Regions from separate parts of the Homo sapiens genome. Here regions 1 and 2 are each linked to region 3. The links come from fine-mapping of genetic effects on gene expression. A gene starts in region 3. Each other region holds a variant in brackets. All regions are shown on one strand. Distances are between the middles of the regions.

Region 1 (5,440 bases), 730 kb before region 3:
CTCCCCAGTTCAAGCGATTCTCCTGCCTCAGCCTCCCAAGTAGCTGGGATTATAGGCACCAGCCACCACACCTGGCTAATTTTTGTATTTTTAGTAGAGCCAGGGTTTCACTATGTTGGCCAGGCTGGTCTTGAACTCCTGACCTCAAGTGATTCGCCCACCCCAGCCTCCCAAAGTGCTGGGATTACAGGCGTGAGTGAGCCACCACGCCTTGCCCAGCTTCTTATACTTTAAATTTACCTTTTTTTTTCTGATTTTATTCTGCTTTTTTTTTTTTTTTTTTTTTTTTTTTTTAGTATTTATTGATCATTCTTGAGTGTTTCTCGGAGAGGGGGATTTGGCAGGGTCATAGGACAATAGTGGAGGGAAGGTCAGCAGATAAACAAGTGAACAAAGGTCTCTGGTTTTCCTAGGCAGAGGGCCCTGCCGCCTTCCACAGTGTTTGTGTCCCTGGGTAGTTGAGATTAGGGAGTGGTGATGATTCTTAGAGCATGCTGCCTTCAAGCATCTGTTTAACAAAGCACAACTTGCACCGCCCTTAATCCATTTAACCCTTAGTGGACACAGCACCTGTTTCAGAGAGCACGGGGTTGGGGGTAAGGTTATAGATTAACAGCATCCCAAGGCAGAAGAATTTTTCCTAGTACAGAACAAAATGGAGTCTCCTATGTCTACTTCTTTCTACACAAACACAATAACAATCTGATCTCTCTTTCTTTTCCCCACATTTCCCCCTTTTCTATTCGACAAAACCGCCATTGTCATCATGGCCCGTTCTCAATGAGCTGTTGGGTACACCTCCCGGACGGGGCGGCTGGCCGGACGGGAGCTGCCCCCCACTTCCCAGATGGGGCGGCTGCCGGGCGGAGGGGCTCCTCACTTCTCAGACGGGGCGGCCGGGCAGGGACGCTCCTCACCTCCCAGATGGGGTGGCGGCGGGGCAGAGACACTCCTCAGTTCCCAGACGGGGTCGCGGCCGGGCAGAGGCACTCTTCACATCTCAGATGGGGCGGCAGGGCAGAGGTGCTCCCCACATCCCAGATGATGGGCGGCCAGACAGAGACGCTCCTCACTTCCTAGACGGGATGATGGCCGGGAAGAGGCACTCCTCACTTCCCAGACTGGGCGGCCGGGCAGAGGGGCTCCTCACATCCCAGACGATGGGCGGCCAGGCAGAGACGCTCCTCACTTCCTAGACGGGGTGGCGGCCGGGCAGAGGCTGCAATCTCGGCACTTTGGGAGGCCAAGGCAGGCAGTTGGGAGGTGGAGGTTGTAGCGATCCGAGATCACGCCACTGCACTCCAGCCTGGGCAACATTGAGCACTGAGTGAGCGAGACCCCGTCTGCAATCCCGGCACCTCGGGAGGCCGAGGGTGGCAGACCACTCGCAGTCAGGAGCTGGAGACCAGCCCGGCCAACACGGCGAAACCCCGTCTCCACCAAAAAATACGAAAACCATCAGGTGTGGCGGCGCGCGCCTGCAATCGCAGGCACTCGGCAGGCTGAGGCAGGAGAATCAGGCAGGGAGGCTGCAGTGAGCCGAGATGGCGGCAGTACCGTCCAGCCTCGGCTCCGCATCAGAGGGAGACTGTGCAAAGGGGAGACGAGGACCGTGCAAAGGGGAGAGGGAGGGGGAGGGGGAGAGGGAGAGGGCTTATTCTAAATTTACCTTTTTATATTGGAAGTGAGTTTCTTCTAAAGAGAATATGCATGGTCATATTTATTAATCAGTGTTGTCAGGCCGGGAACAGTGGCTCACGCCTGTAATCCCAGCACTTTGGGAGGCTGAGGCGTGCGGATCACGAAGTCAGAAGATCGAGACCATCCTGGCTAACACGGTGAAACCCCGTCTCTACTAAAAATACATAAAAAATAGCCGGGCGTGGTGGCGGGCACCTGTAGTGCCAGCTACTCGGGAGGCTGAGGCAGGAGAATGGCGTGAACCTGGGAGGCGGAGCTTGCAGTAAGCCAAGATCTCGCCACTGCACTCCAGCCTGGGCGACAGAGGAGATTCCGTCTCAAAAAAAAAAAAAAAATCAATGTTTTCAATCTTTGTCTCTAATTGATTATTTTATTTTATTTATTTATTTTTGACTGGTGGCAGTAGAATTTATTCAAATGTGCCTTAATACAGGTGCTAGGGCTTGCCGGTGGTGCTCTTGTTATATAAGGGCCGGACATTCTGCCGGTTTTCCGTGAGCAGTGACATCAGGAAGTTTACAGCCAGGTGAATGTTACACACATCGTCTGTGTGTAACATCGTCTGTCATCTTCACGTGGCTGACAGCCACAGCCAGACATAGCACCTTCTTCATTTGGGTGTTGATTGTGAACTTCACCTCATCCACTTTGGCCAGCATGTTTTTGTTGTGTGTCAGCGGAGATCTACTTGGTTAATTCAGAACATTTAACAGTTAAGTTAATTTTGTTAAAACTAGCCTGATACGTTGTTTTCTGTTTGTTCTCTCTGTTTTGTTCCTCTGTGTGATTTTTACTTTCTTCATGTAGATAATTTGAACATGTTTTAAAATTTCATTTATTTGTAGTGTTTTTGAGTATAGCTTTTTTAGTGTTAGATCAACGTATTACATTATATTCAGAAATTATCGTAGTTAACAATGTTTCAATTGTTCCTTGATATTCAAATACAATTTATAAAACACAAAAGGGAAAGAAAGCCTATTGTATCTACCCTCATTTTATCCCAGCATAGAAGGCACATTGGATAAAAGTTTTGTTTGATAAGGTGTCTTTCCTGGTCTTTTTGGCTGAAGACAGGAGTCTGTTGTTGGGTTTGCTTTTTGTTTTTTGGGGTTTTTTTGAGACAGTGTCTCTCTGTCACCAACGCTAGAGTGCAGTGGCATAATCACAGCTCACTGCAGCCTCAACCTCCCCAGGCTCAAGCCATCCTCCCATCCCAGACTCCCAAGTTGCTGGGACTATAGGTGTGCACCACCATACCCAGCGAATTTTTTGTAGAGGTGGTATTTCACCTCTACAAAAAATGATGCCCAGGCTGGTCTTGACCTCCTGAGCTCCAGTGATCCACCCGCCTCAGCTTCCCAGAGTGTTGGGATTATAGGCGTGAGCCACTGCACCTGGCTGAGAAGTATCTGGTTAGATCCTTTCCCATTTTAAATTTAGATTCTTTTTTTGTTTGTTTTTTGCTATTAAGTCATTTGAGTTCTTTGTATATTCTGGTTATTAATACCTTATTGGGTGGGTATTTTGAAAATACTTTCTGCCATTCTGTAGCTTTTCTCTTTACCTTGTTAATTTTTTTTTTTTTTTTTTTTTTTTTT[TTG/G]CTATGCAGAAGCATTTTGGGTTGATATAACCCCATTTGTTTTTGTTTTCGTTGCCTGAGCTTTTATGGTTTTACTAAAAAAAAAAAAAAAAAAAACCACTATCCAGACCAGTTTGTTCATTTTGGGTAACTGAAACTTTGTATCCCCCCAACCCCCGTTTTTCTTTCAGCTCAGCTTCTGGAAAACACCATTCTACTCTCTGCCTCTACACGTATAATTACTTCATATTTCACATGTATGTGAGATCATGATGTATTTGTCTTTCTATGTCTGGCTTCTTTCAATCGTGCCTTAATGTGTACCTTAGTATCCTTCAGGTACATTCATGTTGTCACAAATGAAAAGATTTACTGGCCGGGCGCGGTGGCTCACGCCTGTAATCCCAGCACTTTGGGAGGCCGAGGCAGGCTGATCAGCTGAGTTTGGGAGATCGAGACCATTCTGGCTAACACGGTGAAACCCCGTCTCTACTAAAAATACAAAAGATTAGCCAGGCATGGTGGTGGGCGCCTGTAGTCCCAGCTACTCGGGAGGCTGAGGCAGGAGAATGGTGTGAACCCAGGAGGCAGAGGTTGCAGTAAGCCAGGATCGCGCCACTGCACTCCAGCCTGGGTGACAGAGACTCCATCTCAAAAAAAAAAGAAAAGAAAAGATTTACTCCCTTTTTAAGGCTAATATTCTATTGCATGTATATACTACCTTTACTTGACACATTCATGTATCCTTCATGGACATTTAGGTGGCTTCCATATCTTGGCTATTGTGAATAATGCTGTAATAGACACAGAACTATGTAGCTCTTCAAGATCCAAATTATATTCCCTTTGGATGTATCCCCAGAATTGAGTTTAATGAATCAAACTGTAATTTTTTTTTTTTTCGAGACGGAGTCTCACTCTGTCACTCAGGCTTTAGTGCAGTGGTGCGATCTCAGCTCACTGCAACCTCTGCCTCCCGGGTTCAAGCAATTCTCCTGTCTCAGCCTCCCGAGTAGCTGGGATTACAGGTGCGCACCACCACTCACAGCTACTTTTTTTTTGTATTTTTAGTAGAGACAGGGTTTCACCATGTTGGCCAGGCTGGTTTTGAACTCCTGACCTCAAGTGATCCTCCCACCTCGGCCTCCCAAAGTGCTGGGATTACAGGCATGAGCCACCACACCCGACCTATAATTCTGTTTTTAACTTTTTGAGACAACTGTATGTTGTTTTCCATTGTTGCTGCCAATTTTAATTCCTGCCAGCTGTGTACAAAAGTTCCAGTATCTTCATAACTTTAGCACGCTTGTTTGTTTTTAATATACCTGTCCTCACAAGAGTGAGGTGATGCCTCACTGTGACTTAAATTTGCATTTGACTGACATTTAATGACACGGAGCATTTTTTAAAATATACCTGTGGCCATTCTTATGTCTTCTTTGGAGAAATGTTTATTTAGGTCATTACTCATTTATTAATCTTGTTATTTGGGGTTTGCTATTGAGTTGTAGAAATTCCTTGTATTTTTGGATATTAACCCTTTATCAGATATATTATTGGCAACTATTTTTTTCTCATTCCTTAAGTTGCCTTTTCATTTGTTGAATTTGTCCTTTGTTCAGAAGTTTTTCTATTCGAGGTAGTCCCACTTGTCTGTCCTGATTTTATTGCCTGTTCTTTGTCTTACTATTTTGTTTTTTTGAGACAGGGTCTCATTCTGTTGCCCAGGCTAGAGTGCAGTGATGCAATTTTGGCTCACTGCAACCTCTGCCTCCCAGGTTCAAGCAGTTCTGCCTCAGCCTCCTGAGTAGCCAGAACTACAGGAGTGCACCACCACACCCAAATAATCTTTAAAATAGATTTAGTAGAGATGGGGTTTTGCCATGTTGGCCAGACTGGTCTCCAACTCCTGACCTCAGGTGATCCGCCTGCCTCAGCCTCCCAAAATGCTGGGATTATAGGTGTGAGCCACCACACCCGGCCTGTTGCCTGTTCTTTTGAAGTCTAATTTAAAAAAAAGCATCTCAATGTCCAAAGTTCTGAAAATTTTTCCATATTTTTTTTCTAGCCATTTTATGTTTTCAGGTCTTATGTTTAAATATTTAATCCATTTTAAGTTAATTTTTAATATGGTATGAAGTAAGAGTCCACATTTAT
Region 2 (5,440 bases), 40 kb after region 3:
CACGTTGGCCAGGCTGGTCTGGAACTCCTGACCTCCAGTGATCCACCCACCTCGGCCTCCCAAACTGCTGAGATTACAGGCATGAGCCACCACGCCCAGCCCACCCACACAAGTTGACTCGTGAAGAGCCAAGGAATACATGGCAAGGTCTTGGACTGCCCAGCTGGGCTCTGTCACACAGCAGTGTGTCATGAATATTCATGAGTGAATAGAAATTCCTTCTGCTACAGCCCTGCAGGCTCCTCCTCCAGAGGCCCCAGGGCCCTGTCTGTCTCCAGATCTCCATCTAGTGGCCCAGAGATTGCTGCACTTCCCCACCACCCACAGGAGCAATCAACAGCTGTACTAGCTCTCAGTGAGGTCTGCTCTGTGCTAGACACAGACCCCAATGTCCAAGTAGAACTCAGTCCTGAGGACAGACAGACAATGCAGCCAGGGAGTGAATGAAGCACTCGGGGAGGGGTATGTTGGGGTGGTTCAGGGAGGGTGCTGCCAGCCAGTTCTCACCCACTGTCTGGCCCCCATCCTGCCTGCAGGCCTGTGCCCTGGTGCCCCCCACTCTTCCCTGGGCTGCGCCCTGTGGTCATCACAGGGCCACCCTTCTTTATCCAGGGTTCCGCTGAGGGCCTTCCTACTGACTCCTTGACCCCGGGACTGGCCATTCCCTTACCCAGTTTTCCTCACAGTCTTGGCACCAGGGTTATAGTGGTAGCTGAGAGGCACGACTGACCTCAGGCCAGTGACCTCTGACTTAGAAGTTCCATCCCACCCAGGGATGTTGCAGAGAACTGGGGAAGTGACTGGAGCTTGAGCCTGAGCATCTGGGGAGTCAGGAGGGCATTTGGGGGTGAGGGGCTCCAGGCATAGCCTAGGACAGACCCTTGATCCAGGCATCTCCCTGTGGCCCACATGCCTGGACTCTCCTCTCTCCTCAGAAACCCAAGGACTTGGACTTCGCCCAGCAGAAGCTGACCGATAAGAACCTGGGCTTCCAGATGCTGCAGAAGATGGGCTGGAAGGAGGGCCATGGCCTGGGCTCCCTCGGAAAGGGCATCAGGGAGCCGGTCAGCGTGTACGCAGCAGGCAGCCTGGGGTGGGAGTGGGTGGGGCCTCAGTCCTTCCACCTGCAGCCTGCCGCTTGGCTCCTTCACAGCCAAGATGGCTTACAGCTGGCAGTTGATTTTTGTTTTTTAAACAGAAGGCATCTTCAGATGAGAAGCTGATCATTTACATGTGCAGGTGTTTACAGGGCTCCTTTCTGTCCTGGTGTAGATTTTTTAACCAGCTTGTTGGCCCTGGTCATTTTGGCCACATTTGTGACCATCATAAAAGCTAAGTGGTATTTCTGTGTAGTTTCCGTCTGGAACTGCTTTCCCATTCCCGGGAACCCATAGCCGGGCCAGCCAGGGTCCCGAACACAGGCCCAAAGTTTATTAAACCCCGATCATAACCTCCAGCAGGCATTTCATTTAATACTGAGCTTAGTTCCTGCTGGGTAAGGCATTCCGAGGTAACCAGGGCCCTCTGGGCACCCCCTCAAAAGCCAGCTCTTCGAGGGTGAGTACTCCTTGTTTCTACTGTGAGTCGCGTCTTGATTTTCCCTTTCTTTGATGTCTCAGTGTGTGTCCCAAACACCTGCATCTCATGGACTGTTTGTGCCCATGCCCAGTTCCTGGCATGCCAGGCCCTGGGCTCAGGTGCACAACTGACTCTCTTTTTCACTCCCTAGGGGAACCCCCTCGGAAGGGGAAGGGTTGGGTGCTGACGGGCAGGAGCACAAAGAAGACACATTCGATGTGTTCCGACAGAGGATGATGCAGATGTACAGACACAAGCGGGCCAACAAATAGGTATGTTCACAGGCCAGTGTGTAAGGCCGTCTGCCCTCGCTGGCGTGCTGGTATGCAGAGAAATTTCCCCCAACAAAGTTGATGTTCCCTGCTCCCCCAAAAATGCCACACACAAAAAAAATCACAAAATTCTGTGAGGGAAACAAAAGGGTCTATGGATGTGGATATGCCCCATTCTTACCTTCCAGGTTTGCTGAAGGAGCAAACCTCACACTGGCCAAGGGCAGATGCGCATGGCCTGCCTGGTGCCCCGGCTGTGAGCCCCTCAAGGCCTCCAGGCCAGCCTCCGTGGATGTGCGTGTGGAAATAGGCCACGCCTGTCTCTTCTCTT[G/T]CTCAAGTTTTCTCTCACAGATGACAGCCACCTACCACATAACATGACCAGCAAACGGACTGTTCCTAGTCCAGAGGGCCTTGCCATCATGCAAGTGGAAGGGCGACTGTGACAGCCACTGCCACAGAGGATGGCAGTTGGCTGTGTCCCTTTGTGAGGGTCTTCAAATCCTTTTCCTTCTGCAGGGCCTTGGGCCTGTAAATATCCTCATCTTTCTATTCTTTTTTTTTTTTAGTTGCCCCCTCACCTAATTTCCACCTCAGTTTTGAACAAAATCGTTCTCTTCCTGAATAGATCAAAACCACTGATGTGAAAGATAAGCCTTGAAGCAGCAATTGCCCTTAAAACATCATCCCTGCCCTGGATCGGCCTGGAGCCAGTGCCCAAGTACGGTTTGGTGTGTACATGAAAACAAACGTCTCTGCAGTCTCTGGGGCGGAGGTTTCGCTGGCTTTTCTTTCTCTCAAAGAAAAAAACATGCACCATTTTCAATGTGCTTTTGCCTCTCCTCTCTGTTCACATGCTTTTAGCAGCAAGTCCCCTCCAAATCTGTCTTGGTTCCCCTTCAGAAGGTGGCGCTGCCCCCGAAAGGCACCTCAGCCTGTGAGTGCTGAGGAACCAGCTCCTCTGGCTGATTTTCCAGTTGGACTGGCCATTGCTCTCCAGAAGTGCTCTGTTAGCAAACGTGATGTGGAAACGATCACAGATGGTGTTTTCTCGTTGTTCGCCAGAATTTATACGGGGGAGACAAATTCCCGGTAATTACCAAGTCTGCACTCGGGTACCAAAGCTCTGAAGCTCTCTGAACAGTTGCCATACTTGAGTTGATGAATGTGTTATTCATGGTGTCTCATCTCATCAATGCATCTTGAGAGACTTAATGAAATTTTAGCAACAGTATAGAATAGCTCTATCGGGTGGGGAGTAATCATTAAACAGATGAAATCGGCCCCAGATTTACATGTCTCTTTAGAATCCACAGTGTAAGCAAACTACAGTTACAAAGGGATGGGGGTTGTAAACCCTCTGAGACTCTGCACTTTTCGCACGTATGGCATCGTCAAGTGCTGTCTTATTACAGCCTTTGTAAGGAGAGGCAGGCTCCTCCTGGGGTGGGCTCTGCAGCTGCTCTATTTCCAGGCATGTGATCGCCCCCGCTCTCCAGATTCCCCAGCACTCTGCTGCGTGTAACTCCACTCAATTCTCCACTCATCCTTCCTTGTGAAGCAGGATCGTTGAAGTTTTAAGTATGGGCAAAAATCTGGAAAACTTAGGATCCCTCTGACACCCCAGGATTAGGGGACACAGCAGTGGCTAGGGCATCAGCCACAGAACTGAGCGGGAAATGCCACTTGTATTGGCTGTAAAGAAATCCTGGCTTTGGGCCAGGCACAGTGGCTCAAGCCTGTAATCCCAGCACTTTAGGAGGTTGAGGCGGATGGATCACCTGAGGTCAGGAGTTTGAGACCAGCCTGGCCAACATGGTGTAACCCCGTCTCTACTAAAAATACAAAAAAATTAGCCAGGCGTGGTAGCGGGCACCTGTAATCCCAGCTACTCAGGAGGCTGAGGCAGGAGAATCACTTGAACCGGGGAGGCAGAGGTTGCAGTGAGCTGAGATCATGCCACTCCACTCCAGCCTGGGCGACAGAGCAAGACTCCATCTCCAAAAAAAAAAAAAAAAAAGGCCGGCACGGTGACTCACGCCTATAATTCCAGCACTTTGGGAGGCCGAGGCAGGTGGATCACGAGGTCAAGAGATCGAGACCATCCTGGCCAACATGGTGAAACCCTGTCTCTACTAAAAATGCAAAAAATTAGCTGGGCGTGGTGGCGGGCGCTTGTAGTCCCAGCTACTCAGGAGGCTGAGGCAGGAGAATCACTTGAACCCGGGAGGCGGAGGTTGCAGTGAGCCGAGATTGTGCCACCGCACTCCAGCCTGGCAACAGAGCGAGACTCTGTCTCAAAAAAAAAAAAGGAAATCCTGGCTTTCTTTAAGCCACAGACTTCCTAGGCTGTGGTCCCAGCTCCTTGTCTGCCTGGTCCCTGTCACCTTGCAGTGCCACCACCCCCAGGGGCTCTGCTTGCTTCCAGTGGCTTCTGTAGCTTTGGCAACTGGCAGATCTTTATGGCAGTAGAGGTGCCAGCATGGAGGATGGAGTTTGGGTTTATAACCCAACCCTCGAACGAACCAGCCTGTGGGGGCCTGGAGTGGAGCTGGTTTTGGGGAGTCACAGGTGCGGGGGGTTCATCTTCTCCTTTCTCCTTCTCCTTTCCTGACCCCTCCGACAGCTTCCATGTTGGCCATGGGTCAGGTGAATGGATGGAGCTCCAAGCGGGGCTCAGCCCATTGACCCGAGCGAGGCGCACACACCTGCAGCGTGGATCAAGCGCACTCTCTCCAGCATCGCCCTGACCATTCCATGTGCTTTGTCCTAGCATGTTCATTCTTGACTTTCTCCACTTCATTTTATTAAAAAGTTAAATGCTTTAGGAATCTGTGGCGTGTGGCCACTGACCGCCCCCCACCTCCTGCCGCTCCTCCAAGTTTGAGCTGAGATGGTTCTGTGAGTCCTTGGCAGGGGTCAAAGGGCACATCTCCTTGAACCTAGAAAGCCCCCTACACTCTCAGAGGACACCTCTCCTGTGGATTCAGCGCTGGGGCAGTGAAGGTGTCGGGAGCCAGCAGAGCATGGTGCGTGCTGCCAGCTGCCGGCCAGCCGGGATAGAGGAGATGCCACTGGCCCTCCGTGCCCCCAGCCCCTCCCTCTTAACCGAGGCTGTCCTTGCTCTCTGCAGAGGCCGCTCTGCAGGATCCTCGTGTCGCGCGTGATGTGTGGTGGCACAGCCGTGTCAAAGTCACAGTGTCTTTTCTGTCGTTCTAGTTCCAGGGTCACCCCCGAGAGGACAACAGGCATCTGGAAGTGCTCTCTCGCCACTCTGGGTGCTTTACTGTCTCTGGCTTGTTTCCATCACTGGAAATCACTTAGAGAATTGTAGTGTTTTTGGTCCTTGATAAAGCCTAGAAGACATTTGTGATGTTACAAAATGGAAGTTTTCTTTTGTTTCTGTTTTTTAAGATCTAAGAAGTTGTGAATGTTGTTAATCATTTAGCCGTTGCAATAAATGTAGAGGAAATGCAGTGTGCTGGGGTCTCCATGGCTGTGTTTTTAAAATCAGATCAGACACCAGCGCACGCAGATGGGAGTGCAGTGTAGAACCAGATGATGGCTGCCTCCCAGGACGTGCCCTCCGCCGG
Region 3 (5,440 bases):
TCTCTCTGCCCTAACGTTTATGTAAAAATGCAGATTTGGCCTGGCTCCGTGGCTCATGCCTGTAATCCCAGCATTTTGGGAGGCTGACACCGGTGGATCACCTGAGGTCAGGAATTCGAGACCAGCCTGACCAACATGGCGAAACCCCGTCTCTACTAAAAATATAAAAATTAACTGGGCGTGGTAGTGGGCGCCTGTAATCCTAGCTACTCAGGAGGCTGAGGCAAGAGAATTGCTTGAACCCGGGAGGTGGAGGTTGCAGTGAGCCAAGATTGCGCCATTGCACTCCAGCCTGGGCGACAGAGCGAGACTCTATCTCAAAAAATAAAACAAAAAACAAGAAACAAAACCTCAGATTCATGAGTCGGACTGAGGCATAAATGACTATTCCTCTACCTGCCCTGTACCCCATATAAATCGTGTATTCTGTGAAAGGCTGACCAAAGACTCAAAAGAAAGCAATCATTTGTCTCTACCTGTGACCATCTTACACATATTCATTTATATCTCACGTCTCCCTAAAATGTATAAAAGCAAGCTGTGCCCCAACCACCTTGGGTACATGTTGTCAGGACCTCCTGAGGCTGTGTCACAGACATGTCCTTAACCTTGGCAAAATAAGCTTTCTAACTGATTGACACCTGTCTCAAATACTTCGGATTCTCAGTCCTCTGTGGAGCTTCTGCCAGCCCTTCCAGGTGGCTGCCTTTCCTGGCCACTCAGAGAGCCCACACTCTCTGGCTTCACTCCCCAACCCACAACCCCTCCCTTCCACCCACCCCTGAGCTGACTGAGTTGGGAAGGTCTGGCTCTGTGACCACCCCTGACCTGAGTCCTCCAAGGTCCCCTAGATCTGGTACAGGGCTGAGTTGGAGGAGGAAAGTACAGATTTGGAACACATAAGATGGTGCCTGGAGATGGCCAAGTAAGAATTACCTGGAGAACAGCCTAGGCTAAAAGGGGGAAGCAGCATTACCAGTCCCTATTATCCATCAGGGCATGCTGAGGGTAAAACAGAAGATGAGTAAGGCCCCTAACTGGCAGCCAGTTTCCTTCTCTCAGCCAGGAATCTGCTCATCAAGAAAACTGTGCTGTCCAGGTGCGGTGGCTCAGGCCTATAATCCCAGCGCTTTGGGAGTCTGAGGCGGGTAGATCACTTGAGGTCAGGAGTTTGAGAACAGCCTGGCCAACATAGCAAAATCCTGTCTCTACTGAAAATACAAAAAATTAGCCAGGGCCGGGCACGGTGGCTCACGCCTGTAATCCCAGCACTTTGGGAGGCCGAAGCGGGCGGATCATGAGGTCAGGAGATCAAGACCATCCTGGCTAACACGGTGAAACCCCGTCTCTACTAAAAAAATACAAAAAAACTAGCCGGGCGTGGTGGCGGGTGCCTGTATTTCCAGCTACTCGGGAGGCTGAGGCAGGAGAATGGCCTGAACCCAGGAGACGGAGCTTGCAGTGAGCTGAGATTGCGCCACTGCACTCCAGCCTGGGTGACAGAACGAGACTCCGTCTCAAAAAAAAAAAAAAAGGCCAGGCAAGATAGTGCACACCGGTAATCCCAGCTACTCAGGAGGCTGAGGCAGGAGATCGCTTGAACTCCTTTTGACTCCGTTTCAAAAAAAAAAAAAATACAAAATTTAGCCAGGTGCGGTGTTGCGCACCTGTAGTCCCAGCTACTCGGGAGGCTGAGGCAGGGGAAGCCCTTGAACCCGGGAGGTGGAGGTTGCAGTGAGTCAAGATCATGCCACTACACTCTAGCCTGGGCGACAGAGAAAGACTCCGTCTCAAAAGAAAATTAAACGTGTGCCATGACATGCTGGGGACTCTAAAAGACTCCATCCACATGTCCCTCTACCAGCCACACCCACTCTGGTTCAAACACCAGCCTCCCCTAAGGGCGGCGTCACCTGCCACTCCCAGAGCCTAGACTCCACCTCACTCACGTGCTCAAAGCCCGGTAGTGGCTTCCCAACCCTCTCAGAACAAAACCCAGCCTCCTTATCCGCACCTTCTCTATCTAAGCCTTCCAAGTTCCTCTTCCCCGCCTTTCTCATCCTTCCCAGCACTCAAGAGACAGCCTTCAAAACCACTTCTAGATAAAGAGCAGCCCTGCTTTCCCGTCCCATCACTCTGTTATTATTTGCACACCATTACCTGTATCTAGAGCAACATCGTTCACTCATTTATTTGTACCCTGTAGCCTCCTTGTCCCCACTGCCTAGGACGGGGCCCGACACGCAGCAGGCACTCAGTGCACAGGTGCTGAATGAATAAATAAAATGAATGAAAATAAAGCGAATGCCAGGGAAGCCGAGGATTTTGTCCCCAGGCGGCTTCTGTAAAATTCTTTCATTTTTTTTTTCCCCCCAAACCACGTACCCGAGGGTCGCGCCAGCCCGACCCTGCGGCACCCCCACTCCCCACTCCGCGCGGGACAGGCCTCGGCAGCCGCAGCGTCTCACCCGGTCTTCGCGGCCACGTGGGGAAAGGTGGGGCGCGCGGTTGTCACCCAGGGAGCCGCCTCTAGCCCCTTCCGGCCGCCGTACGCGCGCAGGCGCTGTGGCGCCCCTAGGCTTGGCCTCCCAGAGACTCGCGGACGCTCACGATAACCAAGGACGACCGCGAACCAAGGTAAAGCCAACGAGGCCACCTCGTGCGCGACGGAGGCGTCTTTGCCGCCCCTTCCGGGACGCTCACGGTGGTCGCCGCCCCCAGCAGGGAAATGTTTTGCCTCCAGAGCGTCCGCCCAGAAGAAGCGGACAGCGCGCTTGCGCAAGAGAGCCGGGCCGCGGCGGCCCGCGCCTGCGCACCAGGACTCGGCGGCGGCTTGCGCCTGCGCGGCGCGGCGCTGCGGAGACCGTTGGTTCATTTGCATGTCCCCGCCTCGCGCGGCGGCGGCGGCGGGTGAGGAGCCTGAGGCGGCGGCGGGGGTGGCTCCGCGCGCGGTGGTCTCGGGGTGAGGCCCGGGCCCTGGCGTCGTCGGTGGGTGGCTCCCGGGGTGGGAAGCTCGGGCTCGGCCTTGGGGGCCCGCCCCGGGCTCCGTGATGGCGTCGCAGGCTCGGCCCTCTGGCTGCGGCGGCGGCCGCGTCCCCGCCGGGTTGGCCTGGGTGGCCGGCTGCGGCCTCCCGGGCCCGGCGCCCCCATTTCCTCGCCCGCAGAGGCCGGGAGACGGCGGGCCGCGTCCACAAAGGCTCATTGGTTCAGTCGTTCATTCATTCCTCCCGAACTCGGAGCGGCCCCCGCTCGGGAGGAGATAACGGCGCCCAGCGCTGCATCGGGCCCTTGCCCTCTTTAGAACCGGTTCAGCCCCCACACCAGCCCCTTTACTGGCTGCCCATTCCATAGGTGGGGAAACGGAAGCACAGAAAGCTTAGAATCGTGTGATTTGAACCTGGGTCACCTGACCCGGGAACCCTGCCCTTTGCCAGCAGAGAACAAGGGGGCGCCCCGGGAAAAGGGCTGAAGGATGGGACTGGGGGAGGCGGGTGGGGGAGGCGGTGATCGTGATGGGAAATGGACCCTACGGGTTGTCTCTTGAAGTTGGAGGTTTTGCGAAGCGGGATATCTTGATGGTTAAGGATGCAGCCCCTGGACCCCAAAATGTTGCTTAATCTTTTTACTCATTCTTCGGGGCTTTGGATGCACGAATACCCTTTTTGCCAGGTTCAAATCTGGGCTGTCTGGTCTTGAATGGGTCGTTGAGTCTGTCTCCCTTTGCCTCCTCACCCTAATGTCATTCATAACAGGACCCGCCTCTTCAGTGGGTGGTTGGGAGATCGCGCAAGGACCCAGCGCAGAATGAACTGTCACTAGTTCATTGTCATTGGTTGGGGGTCCCGCCACTCACTGTCAAGAGGCTTCTTTTAGAAGGGAAGGAAGTTCTCAGAGCCTCTGTGCCCTGCTGAGTCTGTGAATGGGAAAAGAGTGATCCTGGGCCAGGCGCAGTGGCTCACGGCCTGGAATCCCAGCACTTTGGGAGGCCGAAGCGGGCGAATCACTTGAGGTCAGGAATTCAAGACCAGCCTGGCCAACATGGTGAAACTCCATCTCTACCTAAAATATAAAAATTAGTCGGATGCGGTGGCGGACTCCTGTAATCCCAGCTACTCAGGAGGCTGAGGCAGGAGAATTGCTTGAGTCCAGGAGGCGGAGGTTGCAGTTAGCCGAGATCATGCCACTGCACTCCAGCCTGGGCAACAGGGAGAGTCTCAAAAAAAGGAAGAAAAAAAAAAAAAAGATTGATCTCTTCTTTCCTAACCACGATTTGCGAGGGTTGTGGTCCCACCCTTCCTACTCTGTTATGCTCAGTTATGTGTGTTGGTTGACACCTTCCTCCAGCAGATAGAACTGCTTTCACAGAGCTGCTTTTAATGGATTCCAAGGAGATGGGCCCAGAGAAGGTTTGTCTTGCTCCTTTTCAGCCAGCACACACCTGTGAACTTCGTGAGGGCAGAGACCCCCTTAAAAGAGTCCAGACAAGGTGGGCAGATTGCTTGAGGTCAGGAGTTCGAGACCAGCCTGGCCAACCTAGCAAAACCCTGTCTCTACTTAAAAAAAAAAAAAAAAAAGATAAATAAAAAGGGTCCAGCTTGCCTCTGAAGTACCATGCGAGGATTATGGATTACTGCCTCCTTACTTCGAGGATTAAGTGAAATAGAGCAGGTTCTGTGAGCACGCATTTTTTTTTTCTTTGAGACAGTCTCGCTCTGTCCCCCAGTCTGGAGGGCAGTGGCATGATCTCGGCTCACTGCAACCTCTGTCTCCCTGGTTCAAGCAATTCCCATGCCTCAGCCTCCTGAGTATTTGGGATTACAGGCACGTGCCACCATGCCTGGTGAAATTTTTTTTTTTTTTTTTTTGAGACGGAGTCTCACTCTGTTACCCATGCTGGAGTGCAGTGGCATGATCTCGGCCCACTGCAACCTCCGCCTCCTGGGTTCAAGCAATTCTCTTGCCACAGCCTCCCAAGTAGCTGGGATTAAAGGCAGGCACCACCATGCCCGGCTAATTTTTGTATTTTTAGTAGAGACAGGGTTTTGCCATGTTGGCCAGGCTGGTCTCCAACTCCTGACTTTAAATGATCCGCTCACCTCAGCCTCCCAAAGTCCTGGGATTACAGGTGTGAGCCACCACACCCAGCCTGAATTTTTTGTATTTTAGTTTCATCATGTTGCCTAGGCTGGTCTCGAACTCCTGAGCTCAGGTGATCCGCCCACCTCGACCTCCCAAAGTGCCAGGATTACAGGTATGAGCCACCGCGCCCAGCTCCAAGTTGTTGCTCTTAGTGTATTTTTTTCTCTCTCACCATAGGGCAAAATAACATGGCAGCCAGACGAATTACACAGGAGACTTTTGATGCTGTATTACAAGAAAAAGCCAAACGATATCACATGGATGCCAGTGGTGAGGCTGTAAGCGAAACTCTTCAGTTTAA

Which allele goes with the higher level. Alleles are on the strand shown, and positions count from the first base shown. SD is a standard deviation of normalised expression in the study named. Not every link is listed here.
With allele G in place of TTG in region 1, the expression in lymphoblastoid cells of the gene that starts at base 2,882 in region 3 is higher (large effect, 0.79 SD a copy in TwinsUK).

What was found. PIP is the estimated chance that this variant, and not a neighbour inherited with it, causes the effect.
Region 1: its variant is the best candidate, but not a certain one, in a credible set for the expression of SUGP2 in lymphoblastoid cells (TwinsUK, PIP 0.81).
Region 2: its variant is the best candidate, but not a certain one, in a credible set for the expression of SUGP2 in unexposed skin (GTEx, PIP 0.76).

Annotation. Positions count from the first base shown.
Region 1 is chr19:19,765,675-19,771,114 of GRCh38, reverse strand. All of the region lies in intron 1 of LINC00663 (long intergenic non-protein coding RNA 663), which reads left to right. Among named protein-coding and RNA genes, the nearest start is that of LINC00663, 8.0 kb to the left of the region's middle. The variant TTG/G (reference allele first, on the strand shown) is at 3,303.
Region 2 is chr19:18,990,776-18,996,215 of GRCh38, reverse strand. It overlaps SUGP2 (SURP and G-patch domain containing 2), which reads left to right. Exons shown (of 11, transcript NM_001017392.5): 9 at 936-1,072; 10 at 1,730-1,850; 11 at 2,476-5,323. The coding sequence ends at 1,850. Among named protein-coding and RNA genes, the nearest start is that of SUGP2, 40 kb to the left of the region's middle. The variant G/T (reference allele first, on the strand shown) is at 2,182.
Region 3 is chr19:19,030,959-19,036,398 of GRCh38, reverse strand. It overlaps SUGP2 (SURP and G-patch domain containing 2), which reads left to right and starts at 2,882. Exons shown (of 11, transcript NM_001017392.5): 1 at 2,882-2,962; 2 at 5,317-5,440. The coding sequence starts at 5,328. It overlaps ARMC6 (armadillo repeat containing 6), which reads right to left and starts at 2,796. Exons shown (of 9, transcript NM_001199196.2): 1 at 2,469-2,796; 2 at 2,161-2,268. The coding sequence starts at 2,189. RefSeq lists silencers at 2,793-3,222, 3,643-3,722 and an enhancer at 3,649-4,150.